7 linked regions of the Homo sapiens genome follow. The protein of the gene in region 3 purifies or fractionates together with the protein of the main gene of each other region. This does not show direct contact. Each region holds a gene or a part of one and is shown on either strand. Other genes may lie near its edges. The genes, in order: PCDH10, COLEC12, SMIM5, SLC44A5, ANO6, RET and LEMD3.

The links.
Region 1: the proteins of SMIM5 (region 3) and PCDH10 purify together in Homo sapiens (affinity purification with mass spectrometry; one large-scale study listed by BioGRID and IntAct). This does not show direct contact.
Region 2: the proteins of SMIM5 (region 3) and COLEC12 purify together in Homo sapiens (affinity purification with mass spectrometry; one large-scale study listed by BioGRID and IntAct). This does not show direct contact.
Region 4: the proteins of SMIM5 (region 3) and SLC44A5 purify together in Homo sapiens (affinity purification with mass spectrometry; one large-scale study listed by BioGRID and IntAct). This does not show direct contact.
Region 5: the proteins of SMIM5 (region 3) and ANO6 purify together in Homo sapiens (affinity purification with mass spectrometry; one large-scale study listed by BioGRID and IntAct). This does not show direct contact.
Region 6: the proteins of SMIM5 (region 3) and RET purify together in Homo sapiens (affinity purification with mass spectrometry; one large-scale study listed by BioGRID and IntAct). This does not show direct contact.
Region 7: the proteins of SMIM5 (region 3) and LEMD3 purify together in Homo sapiens (affinity purification with mass spectrometry; one large-scale study listed by BioGRID and IntAct). This does not show direct contact.

Annotation. Positions count from the first base shown.
Region 1 is NC_000004.12:133,155,794-133,159,293, forward strand, and holds part of PCDH10 (protocadherin-10 isoform 1 precursor), read left to right. Parts: intron 1-3,500.
Region 2 is NC_000018.10:490,702-494,201, reverse strand, and holds part of COLEC12 (collectin-12), read left to right. Parts: intron 1-3,500. UniProt on the Homo sapiens protein: Scavenger receptor that displays several functions associated with host defense. Promotes binding and phagocytosis of Gram-positive, Gram-negative bacteria and yeast.
Region 3 is NC_000017.11:75,639,169-75,641,904, forward strand, and holds the end of SMIM5 (small integral membrane protein 5), read left to right. Parts: exon of another isoform or gene 1-997; coding exon of another isoform or gene 998-1,033; coding exon 1,034-1,160; intron 1,161-1,622; coding exon 1,623-1,729; 3' UTR 1,730-2,236; downstream 2,237-2,736.
Region 4 is NC_000001.11:75,216,115-75,219,614, reverse strand, and holds part of SLC44A5 (choline transporter-like protein 5), read left to right. Parts: intron 1-270; coding exon 271-358; intron 359-862; coding exon 863-1,125; intron 1,126-1,654; coding exon 1,655-1,749; intron 1,750-3,500.
Region 5 is NC_000012.12:45,348,595-45,352,094, forward strand, and holds part of ANO6 (anoctamin-6), read left to right. Parts: coding exon 1-37; intron 38-2,064; coding exon 2,065-2,180; intron 2,181-3,500. UniProt on the Homo sapiens protein: Small-conductance calcium-activated nonselective cation (SCAN) channel which acts as a regulator of phospholipid scrambling in platelets and osteoblasts.
Region 6 is NC_000010.11:43,111,569-43,115,068, forward strand, and holds part of RET (proto-oncogene tyrosine-protein kinase receptor Ret isoform a precursor), read left to right. Parts: intron 1-530; coding exon 531-656; intron 657-1,284; coding exon 1,285-1,395; intron 1,396-1,987; coding exon 1,988-2,107; intron 2,108-2,911; coding exon 2,912-3,168; intron 3,169-3,500. UniProt on the Homo sapiens protein: Receptor tyrosine-protein kinase involved in numerous cellular mechanisms including cell proliferation, neuronal navigation, cell migration, and cell differentiation in response to glia cell line-derived growth family factors (GDNF, NRTN, ARTN, PSPN and GDF15).
Region 7 is NC_000012.12:65,242,583-65,245,718, forward strand, and holds part of LEMD3 (inner nuclear membrane protein Man1), read left to right. Parts: intron 1-805; coding exon 806-887; intron 888-3,086; coding exon 3,087-3,136.

The sequences.
Region 1 (3,500 bases), on a different chromosome or scaffold from region 3:
TAACTCTTATTACTAATACTAAAAGGAAACTCTTACATGAAATAAAATATGTATGTTAAAATGAAAATGATTTAATAAACTTCTGGTGTCCTTCCTAATTTTTTGGTTTTCATCTTTGAAGGGTGTTTGTTGAATATTTTACTTTTTCTATCTAGTTTTGTGTTTATTTGACACATGAAGAAATAGAAAGGCTAGTCAACTTTTCTAACTCCTGAAAATGTCGATCTTAGACTGTCTTTGGGTTCAACTCTCTTGAGACTGGACCTTTATTTTACTTAATAATATAACCATAGAGTGATAGGTTCTCATTTTCAAGGTGATATTAGTCCTCGAGAGCACCCATTCCTTAACACACTTGTGGACCTCTGGATGGTGCTGAGGCAGTGTGTCAAAGGGCAGCGTACACCCCATGGTGGCCTGGCAGCAGTGGTTGCTACAAGCCTCTCACTTGGCTAATGTGTGCTGTGTCTGTGGCTGCCTTAGCCTTGGGAAACCCAGGCAGGAGGAAGGGAAAAAAGGCTGCTCAAGGGTCTCTTTATATTGCTGTGAGTCATTAATATGCAGGCCTAATGAGACTTGAGAACTGCCAAGAATCCCCGGAGGTCTCTGCCCCTTGCGGGCCTTCACGCTAAGTGAACAGAGCATCTATTTAGTGTCTGGGAACCTGACAACAAACCAGATCTTGCCAGAAGTTTATATGTGCGTACAAAGTCCCTTTCATTTTTGCCCTATATATGGCATATGATTTATTGTTATCTTTAAAAACTGTACATTTAGCATTGCTCATTCCTGTTCTTTTTCAGAGTTTCTAATTTAACTGTCAACCTTTTAAAACTTTTAAAACAAAATGTTTAATGTTTTAAAGAGTATCTGTTGCATGTTTCTTTGGATGCATTTTACTCCTTTCCCACCCCACACGCCCCGCTTTGTTTTTCCTGTAGCACTTCAATCTCAATGAACATTTCAATTAGTTTAGTCCCTCAGACATAATGACCCATAATAACCTAACTGAAGAAAGAGAAATGAATAAACATCTGCAAAAGAGCCAAATTTGGAAGATAGATGAGAACATATTCTTATCAGTGCATCTTCCCAGTAGCTACTTTATTTCACAGTCACTCAGTGTTACCATTTCTGTAATGTTTCTTTCAAATTATTGGAGATGTCAAAGCATTTAAAAGAATACTAAAATGTTAAAATGTGTTGTGGAAAACATTTCAGCCAGGCAGTTTTTGTTTTTATCAAAATGTTAAAATTTTTTTGTATCTTTAAGTTCTTAAACATGTAAAAGTGTTACAGAATTAACAATCCTTTTATGTATCTTATTAGTAGTTACACGGCAGCCACAACATACTGGGCACAATAATAGCTATTTTAGGATTGTAATAAAGCACTTATGTTAAGAAGTGATTGCACCTTTGTGTGCTGAATTGCAATCAGATTTAATGTCTAATTTTATTGTAAGAATAATTTTGAAGTGTTTTCTTTTTTAAGTATAAAACCTCAAATGCAGAGAATTAAAATGCATTTGCTTAAAGACTTTTTTCAATCCATACTGCTGTTATGTACTATAAACCTCACATCAGGCAGCTAGACTATTTCCAAAAATTTAAGCCCATTTCAGATAAATCTGTTTTATTTCATTGTAAAGCCAGATATTAATGATTTTCCAATTTTGCAAAATTAGGTAATATTACTCATAGCATAGCTTTCTAAGTTCAGGATAGGAAAAAAACCTTGTGTTATAATAAGCAAATCTCACTTAACTAGGTTTTAGTAGGGAAAAGTTAGATTATCAAGCAAAACTAACATTGGAAAGATAGAGACTCCGAATTCTCTCTTTCAGTTTGTACCATATTCCACACTATAGTGTACAGACTATTTAGCTTAGTGCTTCACCTGTTTAAACTTCCTTTTTCTTTATTCCTATTTCTTTTTCTACATTAACATTATTCTGTATTATTTATTTAGATATGCCTTCTATTTATTCTTTTATGAATAGTTTTCTTTTTTTGTTCTATCTTCCACCCCCTCCTTCTTGCTTTTCTTTTTTCTAAGCCATTTGCCGTCACCAATGTTGTTCATAGAAGGGCTTTAAACACGAAGGCAGCTGCACAGAGAATCACATAAGCTTTTTCAGTTTTCCACTGCACCTGGCTCCATGTGTGAAATTCTTCGCCTTGACCACTGCTCTGTGGCACTTTCTTTCTATAGCCTTGTCAAGGTGCTTCCCGTTTTTTTCAGTGAACTATTGATGTATTGGTTAGATATGGCAGTAGTCCAAGGAGAAGTGGCAAATGCAGACATAAACCATCACAAGAGGAAAAACTGATTAATCACAGCTTAAACAGCCAAAGAATTGGACTTTAAAGAAATATATTTTCAACTTTATTATATCATTAAAGCATAATTATTTCTTCTATTTTAGGATACAGATAGAATATTTTAAATTGTATATTCTTAAACATTTTAATATTATTTGAGGTATATCTAAAGTGATCTGTTTAGTAGTGAGAGGTTGCTTTTCCCGTTATAAAATACCTACATTGTCAATAATGCTAAGCTTAATTATAGATTTATTTTTAATACCTTGTGCCTTTAAAAAAATATGTTGAAGAGATAATCCTAATAAGTGATTGAATTACTTGTTAGACATTCTCTGAAAATTGTCAAATTTCTCTTCAATAATTTTTTCTTTCAGTTATAGGAGAACTTATCTTCCAAATATGTTTAGTTTCTAACTAATTATAGATATAATGCATGGTCAAAATTTGGCTATGAATTTTAAAAATAAAGTGATTTGATTGGTCAATAATTTCAAATTAGTAGATAAAATATACCATTGAAATGCATTAAGCCAGTGCATTACTACAGTGTCAGCAATAGAATTCTTGGTTTATTATAAACACAAATACCTATTTCCAAACTCCATTAAGAATTTAGATAATTGCCAAGTTTGATTTTGGGTTTATATATAAAATGGATTTACACCAGTATTTATAAAACCTTATTCACTGGTGAAACTTTGAGCTGCAACTTGAAAATGTGCAGAGATTTATAACTGGAGGCAATATAGAAGATGAAATATTGAGAGGAAATGGTGAAAAATATATACATTTTGAAAGATTATTGGTAGGGAGAAAATTTTGATGGGCATATTTTGATTTTTTTCATGAGTGAGTTATGTTAATAACTATCTGCTTCAAAACCATGTTTTTCTAAAACATACTGCAATTTTTGTGGTTACAATTAATGTATTTTAAGTCGTTAAAAGAGGACTAGAAATCTCAAAAAATGAAAAGTTTTATATCTTCTTTAAAATTAATTTATCATATTTGGAAAAAAATAAACGCTTTGAATGAAAGCTTGTTGCACAAAAAGAAATGTTCACGCAATATTGTATTATGACAGTCACCGAAAAAGTAGCACAAATTGAATTCTAAAATTTTTGAAATCACAATTTGGTCTCAATGGAAATATCCACTGCCTGTGAGTGTACA
Region 2 (3,500 bases), on a different chromosome or scaffold from region 3:
AGGAGTGAGTTGTGCTCCACGTGGGGAAGTATTAGTATTGGTTGCATTCCAGCTGCCGTCACTGCTATCATCATAAAAAATGCAGGGATAATTCCCAAAGTGAAGTTTGTAATTGTAGTAATGAAACAGTTTTTCTATTTGTTATAGTAGTGGTAGAAAATTGATAAATATGTGTAAGTATATTTAGATTACCTAGGAGCACTGTTTTTTTTTTAGTACTATTGCTCACGTGCCTACTGATGACATGATATTTTTAAAGATCTGTGTTTCAAATCCAGTGTCCGGTTTTATCCAGTAAGGATATGACATCAAGGAATCACAACATTAAACAAGTTTGTCTCTAAATAAGTATTCGGACAGATGTATGTATAAGTATGTTTTTAAACCATATGATGTCATGTCTATTTCATCAGTAGTATTAGTTTTCCATTAAGCTGTCATATTTCTGTTTTATTATTTATAATTGGGCCACCAAGTTCTAACTAGCCTTCATTTATTCTTTAAACAAATATTTGGTATTAACTTTCTGTGTGCAAGGCCCTCTAGAAATGCCAAATAAAATGAATAAAATATAGCTTCTGTGCTCATGGAGCTTGCAGTCTGGTAGACAAGACAAGACTTATGCGTAAACAACTGGAATCCAAAGTAGAGAGTAGAACATGCCCTGTTTGAGGTTCAGATAATCTGGCTGAAGACAGGGACATTTTCATTTGCAGGAGAGATTTGAATTATAGTTCATATTTCAGATTACATTATATTTCATATCTTGAATTATATTTCATATTACATTAATAGGGCAAGCAACATTAAAGAAAAATGTCTTAAAAGAGAGGAGGGCTGAGCCTGATGACTCGTGCTTATAATTTCAGTGCTTTGGGAGGCCAAGATGGGAGGGTTGCTTGAGGCCAGGAGTTTGAGATCAGCCAGATCAACACAGCAAGATCCTGTCTCCACAGAAAATTTAATGGGTGCGGTGGTGAGTGGCTATAGTCCCAGCTACTTGGGAGACTGAGGTGGGAGGATCCCTTGAGCAGTGGCACAGTCTTGGCTCACTGTAACCTCTGTCTCTTGGGTTCGAGCGATTCTCCTGCCTCAGCCTCCCAAGTAGCTGGGACTGAGTACAGGTGCGTGCCACCATGGCCAACTAATTTTTGTATGTTTTGTAGAGACAGGGTTTTGCTATGTTGCTCAGGCTCGTCTCAAACTCCTAGCCTCAAGTGATCTGCCCGCCTCAGCCTCCAAAGTGCTGGGATTACAGGCATGAGCCACCGTGCCTGACCTGAAATCTCTTAAGTGTGACATTTCAGTGTGGGAGGTGAGAGGAAACCAAATTCAGAGTCTTCTTGAATTGTGTCTCTTAAACTCAAAACGTTGGTCCAACATTTGTAAATAATTATAGTATATTGCTTTGGCATAATTGTTTAGATAATCTAAACAACGTTAATGGATTTCAAAACAAAAAGACGTATCGGTGTTATTTTTAAACCAAAGACCTCTTTTTTTTTTTGTCTCCAGAGAAATGGACAGCATTAGTTTTTCTTGCCAAATCACCCATGTATTTGAGGCCCTGCCAAGGCCCTTATTCAATTTAAGGCAGAGATTCAAGGCCTCATTCTGACTCTCTTATTAACATGATTAAAATGACTGGATGAGAATTTTCCTCATAGAAGAAAGGGAAGTGCATCACCTCCACCATAATCACCTATGAATGATGAATGCAGATGTCAAGGTTTTGGATGTCGTACTTACTGATTACTTCTAAGTTCTTGCAGTTGGTGGCTGTGGGGAAATCTGATTTAGCCCCCACTGCCAACTTAGGGGTAAAAGTAACAAAAACACCCTTTCTCAGTTTTGTTAGACTGTAAAGGAAGGAATAGGGTACCCATGCCTCTTTATTCTAAAAGCAAGTATCTGCCATTTTTACAAGCATCAGAATTGCAAGTTGTGCCAGAAATTGGAGTCATTTTATGTCTATAATTTTGACTTTTGACTTGAAAAAACTGTGCAATTGAATCAAAAGTGATCCCATTGTTGCAAAACAAATTCAGTAAGCAGCTGAGTAATCAAAATGAATCTCCTGTGATACTTTAAAATAATCTACAAGTATTTAAACTGCTACAGATTCCTTCATCCATTTGGAGTGAAACAGTTGAATGGAAGGCCGATCTAATTACCCCCCTACAAAATATCCTGAACCTCAGATACTTTGTTACGCTGCATTGAGTTCATTCACCAGGAGAATACATAATAACTGTGTTCCAGAAATGCCAAGACTGGAAAAAGGAAACCATGCGGGGAGCCAGGTTTACATTTGTAAAGCTATAAAACCAGGGCAAATATTACCGATACTGTGCTTAGGGACATATCAAGATAAAAGGACACCTTTCTTCAGTTTTTACAGCCCAAAATACGTTAAGATAAATTTTCATCAATATCAACCAGGTACTTCAGTGCCAATTTGCTGAAGCCCAAATAGAACCTGCAGCACGCATTACTCTTTTGCTCATCAAGCTTTCCTGTTGGTCCTTCCCCCAAATAGTCACCTCAGAATGGAGTTTTGTGTCTTTTGAAGCCAGATGATTAAAGTTCTAGGATATTTATTTTGGACCTTAAGGCATAGTAGCTTTTACCACTGCCTCTGTCCTCTTACTTCAAAGAAAATTCATATTTATTAAGCAGATGGTATGTGTTGGATGTTTTCCATGTGTCAGTTCACATTTCCCTCCCCAAAATGTGTGAGATAGGAATCATTGGTTCCAGCTTATAGGAGACTGAGAGGCAGACATGAGCTTATTGCTATTACAAGGTGGAGCCAGTCTTCAAACCCAGGTCTTTGAATTTCAAAGCCCACACATTACCATTAATTCTATCAGCCTCTGGTGTTAGGAAAGAAGTCTTCCAGATATCACAGCAACATCAAGGGGACATTCCAAATATTTAGCAACCCAGGTGACACACTGTGGAAGCCACCATTCCCATATGAAAGCAACTCCTTGGAGCACTGGTCAGTGGAGAGTGACTGTAGACTCAGGGGTCCTGATGGCCCCAGGGATACAGGGGCAAGGACCTGCTACAGTGGGTGGTGGTGACAGTAGAAACAGGGACAGCTTGCAGAAATGCTCAGAGCAGAGGCCATTGTTCTTCAACCAGCTGGTTTGGAAGCACTTAAATATTTTAACAACCAGTGATACCATACCATTTTGTTCTAAGAGTAATGACAAATGTACAAGAGCTGGGAATGGACCCTGGTCTAAACACGATAGAGCAACCAATGGGTACTCATATGTAGACAGCGCCAGTGGGCCAGCATGGAAGAGAAGTCTAACTTCAGCCTAGTCCCTGTCCACGGTCCTTCAGGCTGGCTCCTAAAAATGTCTGCATTTGCTATGATGTTTGGTTTGGCATTTGTTGGAAACCTGCTTTGTGTCAAGTATTGAAGGCTCCAGCTTCAAACTGCGTCTTCTGTGGTTTCAGGTTGAACTCCACACTCTGGCTCTTTG
Region 3 (2,736 bases):
CGTAGCCATCTCAGCGAGAACCGGCTGAGACCTGGGACAAGGCAACGATAATTACAGCCAAAGGTCTGGCACCAGCCCCTGGCCACCTGTCCCCACCACCACCCCTGGATTAGAGCAACTGCCTTGGTGAACTGGATCAGGCTGGGTTGGGACAAGGTTGTCTCTGGCTCCTCTCTAAAGAGGCACCAGCTCCCTCATGCCCACAGGAGAGGCAGAAGGGGAAAGCCTTCTGGAGTGGCACCTTGGGCCTCTTGGGCACCCTGAGACAGGAAGAGGCTCTCCTGGGGCAGGGGTGGGAGTGGAGAGGACTTTCCTGGTCAGGCTAGAGAAACAGATGACGCCAGCAGGGGAGGGGCTGGCTTGAGCAACCTGGGCCTCCTGACCCCCTCCCAACAGACAGGACAGAAACCCTGGCAAAACCTGGAGGGACACGGTGCGGCCTCCCCCTCTGGCAGAACAGGCATGAGTGTAGAAACTGGGCTGGTGGGAGAGGTTGGGGGGCCTGGGGGACAGGGGGGCAGTTTTCACCTCTGACTGACCCTGGCCAGAAGCCCCATGAACCTGCTCTCGGGAGAACCTGCTCCTTCTGTCCCCACATTGATGGAAGGCAAGAGTACCAGCTTGGCATCCTATCCCAGTCTCCCCACCCCGAGGGAGCTGTGCCAGTCCCAAGCACCCAGGCAAAACCCAGTAGTGGTACCTCAAGACAAGGGAATGGAACAGCGAAGCCAGAAACCACCACCAGCCGCCGCCTTGGCCGGCAGCCCCCGAAGCAAGCCCTTGGTCTCACTGTCCTCACCGGCTTCCTCCACCCTGAGCTGTGTCAGCTGGGTGGGGACTGAGGGCCACCACTAGGTGGAAGTCACCAGGGGTGCAATGTGTGAGACCTGACAAACTTGTTCTGCGGGCTGCGGATGGGTGCGAGGGTGGAATCTCGGTGCTGCGACGAGTGTGGGGCCAGCCGTGGAGGCTCCAGGTGTTCTCTCTGCCCCAGCAGAGCCCGGCAGGAGCCCCAACAGGAAGCCAGCGCGGCATGGCTGCCACCGACTTCGTGCAGGAGATGCGCGCCGTGGGCGAGAGGCTGCTGCTCAAGCTGCAGAGACTGCCCCAGGCTGAGCCCGTGGAGATCGTGGCCTTCTCAGTCATCATCCTTTTCACAGGTTAGTTGGGGCACTCAGCACCCCATGGCTCTCCCTGGCATCTGGGAGAGACCACACCATGGTGCCAGCCAGAGGGCTGGCAGAGGTGGCGGGTGTCTGCCGGATCAAGGAGGAAAACCAGTTGTCCCTTGGGGGAAGCCAAGGGACTTCCCTCATCCTCTGATATGCTGCTTGGGTGATGGGCGGTGCTGGGGACTGGGCCCAGCAGTACCCCGGGATCCCAAACGCGGGGATGACGGGAGCCAGGCTTGGGCAGTGAAAGAGAAGACACAACATGGAGGAGGTTGGCCCTGGCGGCTGGCATGGGGACCGTCCGCACCTCTCACCAGCCTCTCGGATCTTTCTGACCTCCACCAAACCTGTGGGGGAAAGACCCTGGCAGGCAGTGGGTTTCTCTGGGAGGAGGGTGGGCATCCTTTCTCTCCCCCAACCTGAGTCCCGTGCTCTCTCCCGGCCCTCCAGCTACTGTTCTGCTGTTGCTGCTGATAGCCTGCAGCTGCTGCTGCACTCACTGCTGCTGCCCTGAGCGGAGAGGCAGGAAGGTCCAGGTGCAGCCGACACCACCATGACGGACGGGCGATGGCTGAGGAGAAGCTGGAGAGGAGATGGCCAATGCCATGACACAGGCCATCAGCCTGGCCCTGCAGCCCTTACCCCTCAAGACCAGGCTCCCCTGGCCCCAGCTCTGGCCCAGCCCAGGTACCTGGACACTGACAACTTGAGCCCTACCAAGGAAACAAGGGCTGGTATAGGTGCAAACCTCTCATCTGCCAGTGGACACTGGGTGCTGGGGAGTCAGCTGTTTCAAAGACTGGGTCAACTGCCTGGGCTTCTTCGCCTACCTGCACTTTTTAACAAAACAAGGAAGTAGGGGTCCCCATACCTTGATGGAGAACAGTCCCCACCTGTGGGCAATTGGCCCTTGGGGCTCTGCTGATACATGCCAAAGAGGAGCAAGGCAATCAGAGGGGCTTTGTGCAATAGCTTCTGCATCCGAGCTCCCGCCAGAGCGTGAGCATGTCAGTATTCTAGTCCAGTATTTGCCAGTTTCCAAGTAAAAGCTTTTGTGTTACGTGTTTCTGCGGTGCCGGACTCCCTGAGGTTGGGCTGGGCTCTGTACATTGGGAGGGGGTATGGCTGGTGCCCGTCCTTCCCAGGCCTCTGCTCTCCCTGTGCCCACGAAAGCTGGAAAACCACGCAGAGAAGCATGCCACACAGGCGGTTAACACCACGGGACCAGTGGACGGTGCCATGAAATTCCTGTCATGCATTAGCTGCTAATGAGCTCTGCCAGGCTGAGGCACTACTCTGCAGAGTGGCAGAGACTGTGTTTGCCCAAAGGCAGGAGCTAAGCTCAGGAACAGCACTTTACTCTGTCAACTGCCTGCACCTTTGGCCTGCACATCCCACACTAGCAGACTCAGACCAGTGGGTCTTCACAAACTGCCAGAGGAAGGCCCTAATGTCACCTGTAACCTGCCTCCTGACCCTGTGGCCCTCCCCCATTTGTGTGCTGTCTGGGCTCACACCCTCACCCTGTCAGCTGCGTGACTCAACTTCCCTAAGCCGAACTCCC
Region 4 (3,500 bases), on a different chromosome or scaffold from region 3:
GTAGATTTGTTTTATTTTGTCTCCACATGATACTGCTCCTTAGCAATAAGCCAAGAAAGCTCCTATACATTTTACTGTTTTTAAGGGGCCACTCAGTGCAGCTGGCCCACATTACATTAATCTAGGCCTGAAAAATAGATGAATATTATTAAAATATTAGGCATTTTTTAAGTTAATTTCTCATGCACTTTTGAGTTGTCAGTATTGTTTTCTTGTCCATTTATTTTCAATCTACCAGCAAATGGTTTATCCTTAATGGAGTTTATTCAGTTTCTTGGCGACATCGGGGGTACCTGTATACAAAGTCATAGCTCCAGGGGGGCATTGTATACATGAAAATCAAACCTGTGACCCAGAGGTAAGTACAAGAAACTCTTTCATTTACTTACTTCAATATAGACTTCTGCTGCAATTCATTTTGTAGTTGTGGTAGGAATTGTCCCGAAGCAGAGATCCTATACACTGATGGGGACAACTATGTGCTGAAGTGGGGAGTGTGCATCAGGTAAGCAGGAGAGTATGGAAAACAGTGGGTGGAATGGAGAGAAAGCACTGTATTTCCTGAGCTTGCCTGCCCTACCATATACCCAAGACCATAGAAAGTAGGTATGGTCAACAACAACACTGATAAATGTGAAATTATAGTGGGTGCAGATTATGAGCATTTGATGAAAAATGGGATACTTTCCAGCACTCATTAGATAATTATATAAAGTGATATAACAGAAAATAGAGGAGTAAGAGCAGGAGCTAACAGAGAAACAACAGGATATGCAATTAAGGGGAAGAGGAAAACACAGGGAGTTGTTATCTTGGAGTGATATTTAATATTATGTCCTTGTGTTCCTTTTTCTCAATGCAGATTTTTAATACAACTGAAATTGCCAAAGCTTGCCCTGGGGCTCTGTGTAACTTTGCTTTCTATGGTGGAAAGAGCTTGTACCATCAGTACATCCCTACCTTCCATGTATACAACTTATTTGTCTTTCTCTGGCTTATAAACTTCGTCATTGCATTAGGTCAGTGCGCCCTTGCTGGTGCATTCGCTACTTATTACTGGGCCATGAAAAAACCTGATGACATCCCACGATATCCACTTTTTACTGCATTTGGACGAGCCATACGGTAAGTTTCAAGTTGAAGCCTACACCTATCTTGTCAGTTACATTTAGTGTGCTTGTAATTCAGTCTTGGCTCATTAATTCAAGTGGCAAGGTACAAATGAAATCAAAGGTATGAATCAAAATTCATGGATGCCCATTGGTTTTGTCTGGTTTCATAGCCAGTTTTACAATCCCTACCCAAGCCAATTTCCTTCTAAATGCTATAGGTTACTAGAGAGAGAAAAAGATAGAGGAGGATACCAAATGAAAGATCAAGGATTAACTTGGCTCTGTGTCTCCATTGAGCAGTAAAAACATCCTATTTTATGATGATAGACTATTGGTGTCATTTATGCTGATAAAGGGTAAGACAGATGTATATGGTTTAAAATCCTCTATAGAGACTTTTATCAATCTAAATAAGAGAGTGCAAAAGTCTCTTTGCTGTTAATCCTTCTGCAGATACCTTTTACTTGTGAAAATTATTCAATTAGCATCCCCTTAAATAATAGTATTAAGTTTTAACTTATTCTCATTTTATTTTTGTGCAGATATCACACAGGATCCCTAGCATTTGGATCTTTAATTATTGCATTAATTCAAATGTTTAAAATTGTACTAGAATACTTGGACCACCGTCTTAAACGTAAGATTTCAGATGTCCTGACTTTTGTGAAGATAATAAATTGGGTTGGGGGTTGGGGGAGACCTGATGATTATAACTTGGACTAGGGTAGTAAGGATGAAAGGGCATATTTGGGACCCGTTCTGTTCTGAAGGAAAACCAGAGAGAGCTTGCTGAAGGAGTTGATGTCAGGGGAGGGGAGGGACAGTGGTGAATAAAAGAGAGAAAAGGTGTGTGATCCTATTTGTTAAGCTGTGGAAGCCAGAAGAAACAAATTTCAAAAAGGAGATTAAGAATTCTGTTTTGAGATGTTATTGTTGAGAAGCATGATGGAGATGTCAGGTTGGCAGTTCCAAGTATATAGTTCAGGTCAGGTTAGGCTTAAAATATAAATGTGGGTGTCACGGGCATAAATCTTCATACCTGATATATATTGTTTACAAACACATAAACTTTGCTTGGAATGTACCTTAAAATATTTTATTACTAATATTGGAAAAAGACTTGAAAAGGAACAAAAAAGCTGGAAGACTCATACTTCCTGATTTCAAAACTTATCATAAATCTACAGCAATCAAAAGAGTGTGGTACTAGCATAAGGACAGACATATAGAGGTAAAATAAAACAGAAATCCCAGAAACTAACTCTCACATATAAGACCATTCAATGGGAAAAGATCAGTCTTTTCAACTAATGGTGCTGGGAAAATGGGATATCCACATGCAAAAGAATGAAGTTCAACCTTATCTTACATTAACATACAAAAATTAACTAAAAATGGATCAAAGACCTAAACAAAAGCACAAAAACTATAAAACTCTTAGAAGAAAACATAAGATGAAAGCTTCATGACATTGGATTTGGTGATTATTTCTTAGATAGTACACCCAAAGCATAGGCAACAAAAGAAAAATAAATTGAACTTCATCAAATTTAAAAACATTTATTCAACAAAGAACACTACCAAGAGAGTGAAAAGACAGCCCACATGATGGAAGAAAATATTTCCAAATCATATGCCAGATAAGGAATTCATATCCAGAACATAAAAGAACTTCTACAACTCAACAGCAAAATAATAAGCAACCCAGTTCAAAAATGGACAAAGAACTTGAATAGATATTTCTCCAAAAATGATATACAAATGGCCAATGAGGACATGAAAAGATGCTTAATATCACTAGTCATTAGGGAAATGCAAGTCAAAACCACAATGAGACTCCATACACATTAGAATGGCTATTATATATATATAAAAACAAAGAAAAAAGCAGAAAATAACAAGTGTTGGTAAGAATGTGGAGAAATTGGAACCCTGTGTATTGCTGGAGGGAATGTCAAATGATGTAGTCACTGTAGAAAACAGTATGGCAGCTTCTAAAAAATTTTTAAATATAATTTTATATGACCCAGAAATCCTATATCTAGATATACATGAAAAGAATTGAAAGAAGGAACTCAAACAGATACTTGCACATCACTGTTCATAACAGCATTATTCAGAATAGCCAGAAGGTATAAACAACCCAAATTCCAATTAACAAATGAATAAACAAAATGTGTTATGTACACACAATCAAATATTATTCAACCTTAAAAAGGAATGAAATGATGACCCTTGACGACATCATGCTAAGTGAAATAAGCAAGATACAAAAGGGTAAATATTGTATGATTCCTCCTATTTGAAGCACCTAGGAGAAGCAAATTTATACAGACAAAAAATATAATGGAGTTTACTAAGAGCTGGGGGAATAGGGGAATGAGCAGT
Region 5 (3,500 bases), on a different chromosome or scaffold from region 3:
CTCTGGGATCTACAAGGCAGCTTTCCCACTCCATGATGTAAGTTAAAAGGCAAAAATGAACTAAAAGGCCTTCTGTATACTCTGGTGTTGACAATAGCAAAGGGCTAACTTTCCTGACTGTAAGTTTCTTCCTCAGTAAAATGAAGGGAACATACTGCAAGATTACAAGCTCATTTAGGGTAAGAACTAGGTCTTTTGTTCACAGATGGATCCCAGTTATAAAGATACTCAGTTTTAAAGGAGCGAATGAATGAATGGACAGGACCTCTCTCACAGTTAATGTGTAAAGCAGTATAGATTAGCAGTTAATCTGTGTTAGCATTTCTGAGACCAAAATGCCTGCCCTGCCACTTTCTAGCTGGATGACCTTGTGAAAGTCATTTAGCCTTTCTTCCTCCATTTCCTCATCAATAAGCTGGGGATAAATTATTACCTACCTCCTAGAGTTGTTAAGAGGATTAAATTAATCCATTAAATTAATCCAAATGTTAGTCCCTAGCATATAATAAATACTATTATAAGTGTTAGCTGTTTTCATAATTACTAACAGATGTTATTATCAACCAGAAAAGATTAGTTCTTTGTCAGCAAAATACATGTTAGACCTTCTCATTTATCATTTTCTGCAACATAGACTTTTCTTCCTCATTTGGAATACGATTTTCAAACTGTCCCCTGGAATATCCCTGGGCTTTTAAAAAGGCATCTGTCAGGGTTGTTGTGACAATGGCAGTACCCCAGATGGTTGACATTTTTTTAAGGACTACATTCTGAGACCACAGCAACCCCTCAAATTCAAGAGTACTTCTCTAGCCGAGAACATCTCTCGTGAAATGAAATTTTTAAAATGTGACCACTGTAAATGCAGGGACATTATAACTAAAGCTGTTTAAACTCTGTCATTGAAATAAATTAAATACTATATTATATTGCATTATTACTTTGTTATATTCACTATCAATTTATCTGACTGTGTAAGACCAAAGAAAGTAAAGACTGAGATTGGTAATTGCTACTGTGTAGTACATGTATTTGTGGATAGAGACGATATTGAAATGTACTGAATAACATAATAAAACTAGGACACTAAACAGCAGCTTGATACACATGGAAAAGTAGAGAACAGGGAGCTGGGTGAGGTAAATACTGATCCTAAGAGACCCAATGTAGCCATCCAGCCTGAGAGTCCATGTGTTTTACTTTTGTGCCCCACTGAATTTAGCTAATTGCGAATAACAGGACATGAATTTTGAGGCCACTTGCAAATAGCTGTCACGAATATTAATTTGGGATGCCAGGGTTCTCTAACAGTTGACATTTGCTTTTGGCCATGTCTTTTCCACTAAAGCCTCTTCTAATTGCAGTGGTCCTGTATTCAGGCTAACAAATGGTCCCATGTGGTATTTGAGAGGGAGGTGTGTGAAGGTCAGGGCCTGTGCCCTGATTTGGCTGGGTGGTAATCTGGTTCTAGTGCCAGAAGAAGAAAAATGAGTCAGAAAAAAAGGCAACTGGATTTAAGCAGGAAGTTTTGTTTCTTGAATAAGCTAAGTGTGTAACATGATACCCAGCTTTATTGTTTGTTTTCTGTATGTTATCACAGAATAACTGCTGAACTGGGGGCAAAGAAGCCTAGGTTTTAGAATTGACCCTGCTGCTAACCAGCCAAGGCCTTGGTTTCCCCATTGTCCAAGGAGAGGGGTGGGTTATCACGTGTTCCTCTGGTGTGGTGATTTGGGCACTTGGGTGGCCCAATTTTTCATTGTGTAGGACTGCCCCACTTAAAGCATTTTAAGCATCTCTGGGGCCCTCACAGAGTCCCTGCAGTGCTCCCCAGGATTGTAACACCCAATCGTTCATCCCTGCCCACATTCATAAATGACCCCCAAGGAGGGTAGTACCATGCCTGGTTAAGAATCACTAAAAATTAGATGGTATTTCCACCCTTTCCAGAAGGTGAGGACCCCTTGTTCACAATTGACTATCAAGTATTTGTATCACATTTAAGAAGCAGATTTGTGAAAACACGATGATTATGGTGCTTACATGTTCCCTTCTGCGTCACAGTGCAAATTCCGCCGTCAGTCAGAGGATCCCAGCTGCCCTAATGAACGGTACCTTCTGTACAGAGAATGGGCTCATCCTCGAAGCATATACAAAAAGCAGCCCTTGGATCTTATCAGGTGAGGGGTTGTAGGGAGTACTCCAGGGGGAGGCACTCAGGGTGTTACCCCCACAGCATCTGAATGTGACAGTACTCATCAAGACTCTTGCCAGTGAAGGGAGCTGACCCAGAGTGCTGAGCTTCGTTGGCCAGGGTTTTTATTGAGGCTTAATTATGTGGGCATGATTAATTGAATCATTACCCATCTCCAGTATCATCCTCCCCCTGGAAGATGGCCAGTAATATGTGGCTCAAAGCTCCAGTTCTCCAATCACATGGTTGATCTTCTGGCATGGCCAGCCTCCACCCTGAGTCATCTCATTAGCACAAACTCTCTAGAGGTCCACCATGAGCCACTTCACTGGCATAAACTATCAGGCGTAGTCCTAGGGTCCCACTGTGAATAAAAAGGCACTCCTATCTCTCAGGAAGTTCCAAGGGTTTAGAGGTTACCCACCGCCCAGGAACTGGGATGCAGACCCACCAAATTCCATATTGCACAGAAGTAAATGTTAGATGTAGTTTCTATTGTATGGTAAGACATGTACATTTTCACTCTTTTCTTATGTCTGCCTCTAGGTTCTATTTCGTTGTATCTCACAAGATACAATGACTAGCTCAAGAGTTTTTCTTCCCAAGGTACCCTGTTGGTTTTCCTCCAGAAGCTTACGTTGTTTGGGCAGGGCTGAGGATTCTGGCTTGTGGGAGATAGACCAAGAACACCCAAACAAGCCAATAAAACATGAAAATAAATAAACAGAATTTCTAATGGAAGTGAAGAAAATAACAGAGCAATAGGATGGGAGGGCAGAGTGGGAAGTGAGTTGAGGGAGTTATCTTTGAGGAGGTGACTTTTAAGCTGAGATCGGATAGTGAAGAGGAGCCAGTGCTTTGAGGACTTGGCAGAAGTCCTTCTAGGAATAGGGGCAGCTTGTACAGTGGCCCTGAGATGCACACACATTTGGCAAGTTTGAGGAAACATCAGAGACCAGTGCTAGTGAGAAACAGAGCAAGACATGAAGTTAGAGGGGTGGCAGGAGCGCCGAAAAGAGTTTAGACTTTAATTGCAGTGAGAAGCAGTTGTAATATTTTAAATGTTTAAGTCATTGTATCCTATTCACGTTTTGCAGATAATGTGGAGAATGGATTATAAGGGGTACAGGGAGCAGGGAGACCACTAGGTAGGAGGCTGTTTGAGCCAGGCAGAAGACTGTGGGAGCAGATTTGGGATGTGTTTGGGGAGTCGGGTCGACAGGACTTGTTTATGGATTGGATGTGGAGAGTGACGAGGAGAGGAGAGTTAACTTCATGTCTGTCTGGAGCCACGTACCTGTTTTTT
Region 6 (3,500 bases), on a different chromosome or scaffold from region 3:
GGAGTGGGGAAGGCATGGACCAGCTTCACCCTGAGTGACCCAGCAGTAAATGGTTGCTCCTTCCAGATAACATACAGGACCTTGGGTAAATTTGAATTTTGGGTAAACAACAAGCAGTTTTTTGGTATAGGTGTGTTCCATGCAACTTTTGCAGCTTCTCGAAAGACACACCTCTAGGTCCATCCATGCCCTCTTAGGAACATGCTGACACAGCTGCCATTCATGCCATTCATTGTGTATCTGAAATGTAGGTCCCACAGGGCGTCGTTGGCTGAATCTGGCTGCACTCACATCCTTCCTCCTGTACTTACCCCAGCCCAGGTGACCCCTGCTTTGTGACCATGATGTCCTGTACCCTGCCCTGCGCCCTGTGCTCCTGGCACTGTCTTTGCTGCCCTGGGTCTGTCACTCCGGTCCCCTTGGGCTCCATCCGTGGGCAGCTCAGCTGGTGCTGTTCCCTGTCCTTGGGCACTAGCTGGACGCTGGGCCCAGGCCAGCCCCCTGTGACCCTGCTTGTCTGCCACCTGCAGATGTGGCCGAGGAGGCGGGCTGCCCCCTGTCCTGTGCAGTCAGCAAGAGACGGCTGGAGTGTGAGGAGTGTGGCGGCCTGGGCTCCCCAACAGGCAGGTGTGAGTGGAGGCAAGGAGATGGCAAAGGTAAGCCCTGGAAACGCCCAAGGGAGGCCTGCAGGGGCGATGGCACCGGTGGAAACGGGGTCCTGGGGCCCTGCCAGCCTGGGGTGGCTCTCCCTGCTCCAGGTCTGCTTCTGGCACCTCATCCCCCATGTGGCTCTCGATGCCAGCATAGCGGGCAGCAGTGCAGGGCTTGGGAGAGGGCTTGTGAGTACAGTGAATGGTCCCCAGGCCGGATTCACTCTGGACTTGGGAAGGTCTGAACCAAAGTTGGGATGTGCTGGGGACAGAATGGCGTTTTTCTGGGAGGTCCTCGGCCAGGGGATGTGGTGTGGGCAGGGGACTCATTGTCTGCATCAGCCAGAGGCCAGCCTGGGTGTGCCCACCACCATGAGGGGCCCTCACCATGCAGCCCTGAGAGGGTCCCGGCCTCTTTGCTGTAAGGGCCACCTGTGTGAGGAACCCCCCATACCTCCTCTCCCATAAGCCATGGCTCCCCAGGATGCTTCCGCTGGCAAGGCTCTGTATATGGTGTTTCCCTACTCAGGCCTCCAGTTGCTCCTCCCTAGAGGGGCAGGATCTGCCTAGGAGGTGGTGGGGGCGTGTGGCGGGGCTCCCACATGGGTGACAGCCTGCTGTGTGTCCTGTGCAGGGATCACCAGGAACTTCTCCACCTGCTCTCCCAGCACCAAGACCTGCCCCGACGGCCACTGCGATGTTGTGGAGACCCAAGACATCAACATTTGCCCTCAGGACTGCCTCCGTAAGCAGGGTTTAATCAGGGCATGGGAACAGGTAGGAGATAGTAGGGGAAACCTGGATCCCACAGGCACTTCAGCCAGAGTTGCCAGGGCTGTCAGTTCTATGCATCAAGCTGAGCCTCCTGTGCATTTCAGCATCACCCTAGCCATGGGGAGGGAGCAGGCAGGGTCAGGGACAGGGGGAAGGCAGGGACCCACAGACTGTCCAGGCCCCTGCTGAGGTCCCAGAAGTCGGCACACACAGATTTCAGAAGCAGAGAATGGTCAGTAGGGACACTGACAGGGAAAGTGCGGCCCTGAGCCAGACGAGGGACACTGCAATGTGCGGGTCAGGCCACCAGGCTCCAGTTTTGGAGGCAGAGTCCTTTGTTCAGATGAAATGTTAGGAGGGGGCCTGGCTTCACCCATGGCTTCAGAAAGGCACTGTGACCAAGCCCTGCCCGGCTAAGCCAAGCTGCTGGGCCCCTGGCCTCACTGGGCCTATGCTTGCGACACCAGTTGGGGAGGGGGCTCCTTGGGACACTGCCCTGGAAATATGGGCGCCTGGGGTGGTCAGGCGCCCCAGGAGGCTGAGTGGGCTACGTCTGCCCTCAGGGGGCAGCATTGTTGGGGGACACGAGCCTGGGGAGCCCCGGGGGATTAAAGCTGGCTATGGCACCTGCAACTGCTTCCCTGAGGAGGAGAAGTGCTTCTGCGAGCCCGAAGACATCCAGGGTGAGTGGGTGGCGGCCGGGACCACCACCACCTCCCAGCCCCACAGAGGTCTCAACAGCACATCTGAGGTCCCAACAAGGGAGGAAATTGCTGGGAGGCGAGTGGGCCCCATGAAACTTCCCTCCCTCCCTCTGGGCCTCTGTTACTCCACCCAGGAGAGGGGCCAGGGCCCCTGTAAAGTGTCTTCTGGCCATAAGTTCTATGATGGACAGGCCAGAAAAGCAGTTCTTCCACCAAACAACTTGTCAGCCTGACAAGTCACTGTCCCTGTGACCATGCAGCTGGGACCCACCCAGGAACACATTTCAAGGTCAGCAGGTATGGTGGGTTGCACAGCCACACTGACTACACTCAGGGGTGCTGTTCTGCCTGAGCATAGGGACACGTTTCTGTCATTGAGTTTTCTGGTATTATATAGCCCTACGTCCCTAGCCACTTAGCATTTTCATAAAGAAAATGCCAAAGACATTTGGAACAGAGGAAAATTTTGACCTCCCCTGCCAGCCCTCCAGTGCCAGCTGGTGTAATGAGCACAGCCTCTGCTGTGTGACCTTGGCAGGCTGCTCAGCCTCTCTGAGCCTCTGTCTCCATCTGTAAGAGGGCAATAGTGGTCTAGGAGGGGGCAGTAAATGGCAGTACCCATGCTCGATGGGGTGTTCTCAGGCCTTCCCACACCTCCATGGCCACTTCCCAGCTGGCGCGGACACGGCAGGCTGGAGAGCCATGAGGCAGAGCATACGCAGCCTGTACCCAGTGGTGCCGAGCCTCTGGCGGTGCCAAGCCTCACACCACCCCCACCCACAGATCCACTGTGCGACGAGCTGTGCCGCACGGTGATCGCAGCCGCTGTCCTCTTCTCCTTCATCGTCTCGGTGCTGCTGTCTGCCTTCTGCATCCACTGCTACCACAAGTTTGCCCACAAGCCACCCATCTCCTCAGCTGAGATGACCTTCCGGAGGCCCGCCCAGGCCTTCCCGGTCAGCTACTCCTCTTCCGGTGCCCGCCGGCCCTCGCTGGACTCCATGGAGAACCAGGTCTCCGTGGATGCCTTCAAGATCCTGGTGAGGGTCCCTGCGGGGCAGGGAAGATCCCCTGCCCTCCCCAGCTGCCTTCCAGGGAGGGAGGCCAGCTGGGGAGACAGAGGCCATCCTGTGAGGGGCTGCCAACGCTGGGCAGACGAGGCCTGTGTTCTGCCCCCATTTCCATAGGGCGCTGTGTGGGGACAGTCTGTGGGGTGGGACTGTGATGAGGTGCCGTTCCCATCTAGGTGAGAGGCAGTGGTCAGGGTCACAGCATCGGGCAGGGGAGCAGCAGTGTGGATGGAGGGGCACTGAAGTCAGAAGGGGGTGCCTTTCTGGGGAGCCTGGCCTGCAGGTCTGCATGTGCTACTCAG
Region 7 (3,136 bases), on a different chromosome or scaffold from region 3:
TTATCCCTCTTTGTCCAACCTTTCAACAGGTCATGTCATATCTACTCCATAATATGTCCTGATTCTATCCGCTTGTCACTTGCACTGTTGGCCTGTCTTACCCACATCATTATCCTCTCCTTCTTAGACAACTATAATATAATAATAACCTTCTAACTGGTCATCTTGCATTCACTTCTGCTTTTACCTGAGTCTCCACATAACAATGTATTTTTAAAATATGTAGTTTTAAAAGACAGATCTCATCCTATTCTACTCCTTAAAACAGTTGAGTGGCTATTACTCTTACCATAATGCCCAAATACTTTTTTGTAGCCTACATCATCTTAAATAATCTGACATCTTCTGTAGGTTTATCTCTATTCTTTCTACTCCAGCCACATTTGCTCCTTCGTGCCCCAGGAGCTGTGTACAAGCAATCACCTCTGCTTGAAATCTTCCTTTACACACCTCTCTTCACCCTGCTAATTTTTATTCTTCAGTTCCCACATAAATTTCACTTTTTCAGGGAAGTTTTATTTTCTCATATGAGGTTAAGTTACTTTTAAAAAGCTTTTTGTACTTTTTTTTTTAAGGACTTAATCACAGTTGTACTTTCTTACATGACACTCTTTATCATCTGTCTCTCCCATTAAACTGTAAACTCTTTGATAGCAATGACTGTCTTACTCACCTTAACATCTAACCAGGGGTCTGGCTCCTAGTAAAAGCATGCAGTGAATATTTTTTGAATGAACTGAATGATTGAATACCTTTCAACAAACTAGAACAATGTCAAATAGTAAAACTAACTTGTTTTTTGTAGCATTTCATTTAGATAGAAGAAATTCACCACCAAATAGTTTGACACCGTGTCTAAAGATTCGGAATATGTTTGATCCCGTTATGTAAGTATTATGATCAGGGGTACATGTAACTCTTATTCTGAATATTTGGCTGGAAAATGCATGATATTCTTATAATGGTGTGTCTGTAATTGAAAATGTTTTTCTTCTGAATCTCTACCACAGAAATGTTATGTTTTTCTCTTTCATTAAATTCCAAGCAAAGATTTGGCCAAAGGACACTAATGTATAAAGATTTGTAAAACTTTTATAAATCTTTGTATTCCTTATGAATCGTCATAGCAGATAGATAAATGCTTGAGGCAAATTAATGACTCACAATGACAAAGAGTACCCTTTATTAAATGTGTAAGTCATTATACATGACTGTCAATATTTTTGCCTCAGTAGAAAATATAGATACAATCACTGCTGCTTACAAATTTCAAATCTCAAATTGTAAAAAGTTTCCTACAAAGATGTATATACCTGCTTCTCTACAAAGTCCTGTCTCCACTTGTCAATATAATATTTGAAGAACTTTTCAGACTTTATAATTCCAACAACATATGCTTCCAGAGAATAGCACAGTCAAAAGTGACTGCCTTAGAATTCACAGTATTTCATATATAAGCTGTAATAGTTCTTAGAATTAGCTTCCTGAGGGCACTGCTTATCTATCCAGTGATAGTACAGATCAAATTCTGTTTGTTTTAAAAGTCCCAACAGTGGCAATTACAATATGTATACAATACCCCCAAAGTCTCATCTAATCACTCATTGATGAAATTCCAAATAAGTGACAGCAAAATTGGAAATGTGAGGAAGCAGTATGCACACGTGTTTGCACGTGGGCACGCGCACACACACACACACACACCCCCCCCACACACACAGAGACAAACACCGCCTCTATTTTGCAGAGATAGAAACAATTAGTAGTGTGATGATACCTCTGTTGGGAATCTTACCTCATGCCTTAGGAATTGGCAAGTCCACTATTTTATTACCTAAGATGAAAATTTGTGATTTGAAGTGAAGTCACTTTCCTCTCTCTCCTGCCATCTTTGTCTCACAAGCAAGACAAATGTCCCTTACTACAGCAGAAACACCTTAAAACTGTCATTATAGTAAGGTGACTGTACAAAATGTTAGTCCTGTATCAATTATTTTGGAAAAGAGAAGCTCAAATGTAGTATTTACTAAGAATTTTCTTTAGGAATTTGAACCTATCATTACAATTAAAGAAAATAACATTCGGCTGGGCACAGTGGCTCACACCTATAATCCCAGTGCTTTGGGAAGCCGAGGTGGGTGGATCACTTGAACTCAGGAGTTCGAGACCAGCCTGGGCAATGTGGCAAAACCCCGTCTCTACAAAAAATACAAAAGAAATTAGCCAGAATTGGTGGTGTGTGCCTGTAGTCCCAGCTATCTGGGAGGCTGAGGTGGGAGAATGGTTTGAGCCTGGGAGGCACATATTGCAGTGAGCCGAGATCACGCCACTGCACTCCAGCCTGGGTGACAAAGCGAGACCCTGTCTCAAATAACTAACATTTAACTTTTACAACTTTAATAAGTTCACAACTCATTTAAAGTACTTATTAACAATAGAAAGAAAACAGAAATTACTGTAAGTACACAGGATTTTTAAACATAGGAATGACCCAATCCATTTATTCTGCAGCGGTGGGCTAGTCTTTCATTGCCTCAGCTCTCTGCACTCTTTTTTTTTTTTTTTTGAGACGGAGTCTCACTCTGTTGCCCAGGGTTGAGTGCAGTGGCGTGATCTCGGCTCACTGCAAGCTCTGCCTCCCAGGTTCACGCCATTCTCCTGCCTCAGCCTCCCGAGTAGCTGGGACTACAGACACCTGCCACCACGCCTGGCTAATTTTTTTTTTTTTTTGTATTTTTAGTAGAGACGGGGTTTCACCGTGTTAGTCAGGATGGTCTCGATCTCCTGACCTCATGATCCGCCTGCCTCGGCCTCTCAAAGTGCTGGGATTACAGGCATGAGCCACCGCGCCTGGCCAGCGCTCTGCACTCTTTTACTGGAAAGTGGGAGGAGGGCTGAGACTTCTGAATTGTAATTTTTAAATCTACCTCCTGTTAGTCAACAAGCATTTACTTAATACCAATTAAAATCGTATGTGGTTTTAAAACTATACCAATTCTAGTAATATATATATGTTGTAAGAGACAGTGAAGAATTTTTACCGAGTAGGAATATGGTTGTTGATTTTTGTTTTCATTAACTTTTAGGGAAATAGGGGATCAGTGGCATTTGGCAATTCAAGAAGCAATTTTAGAAA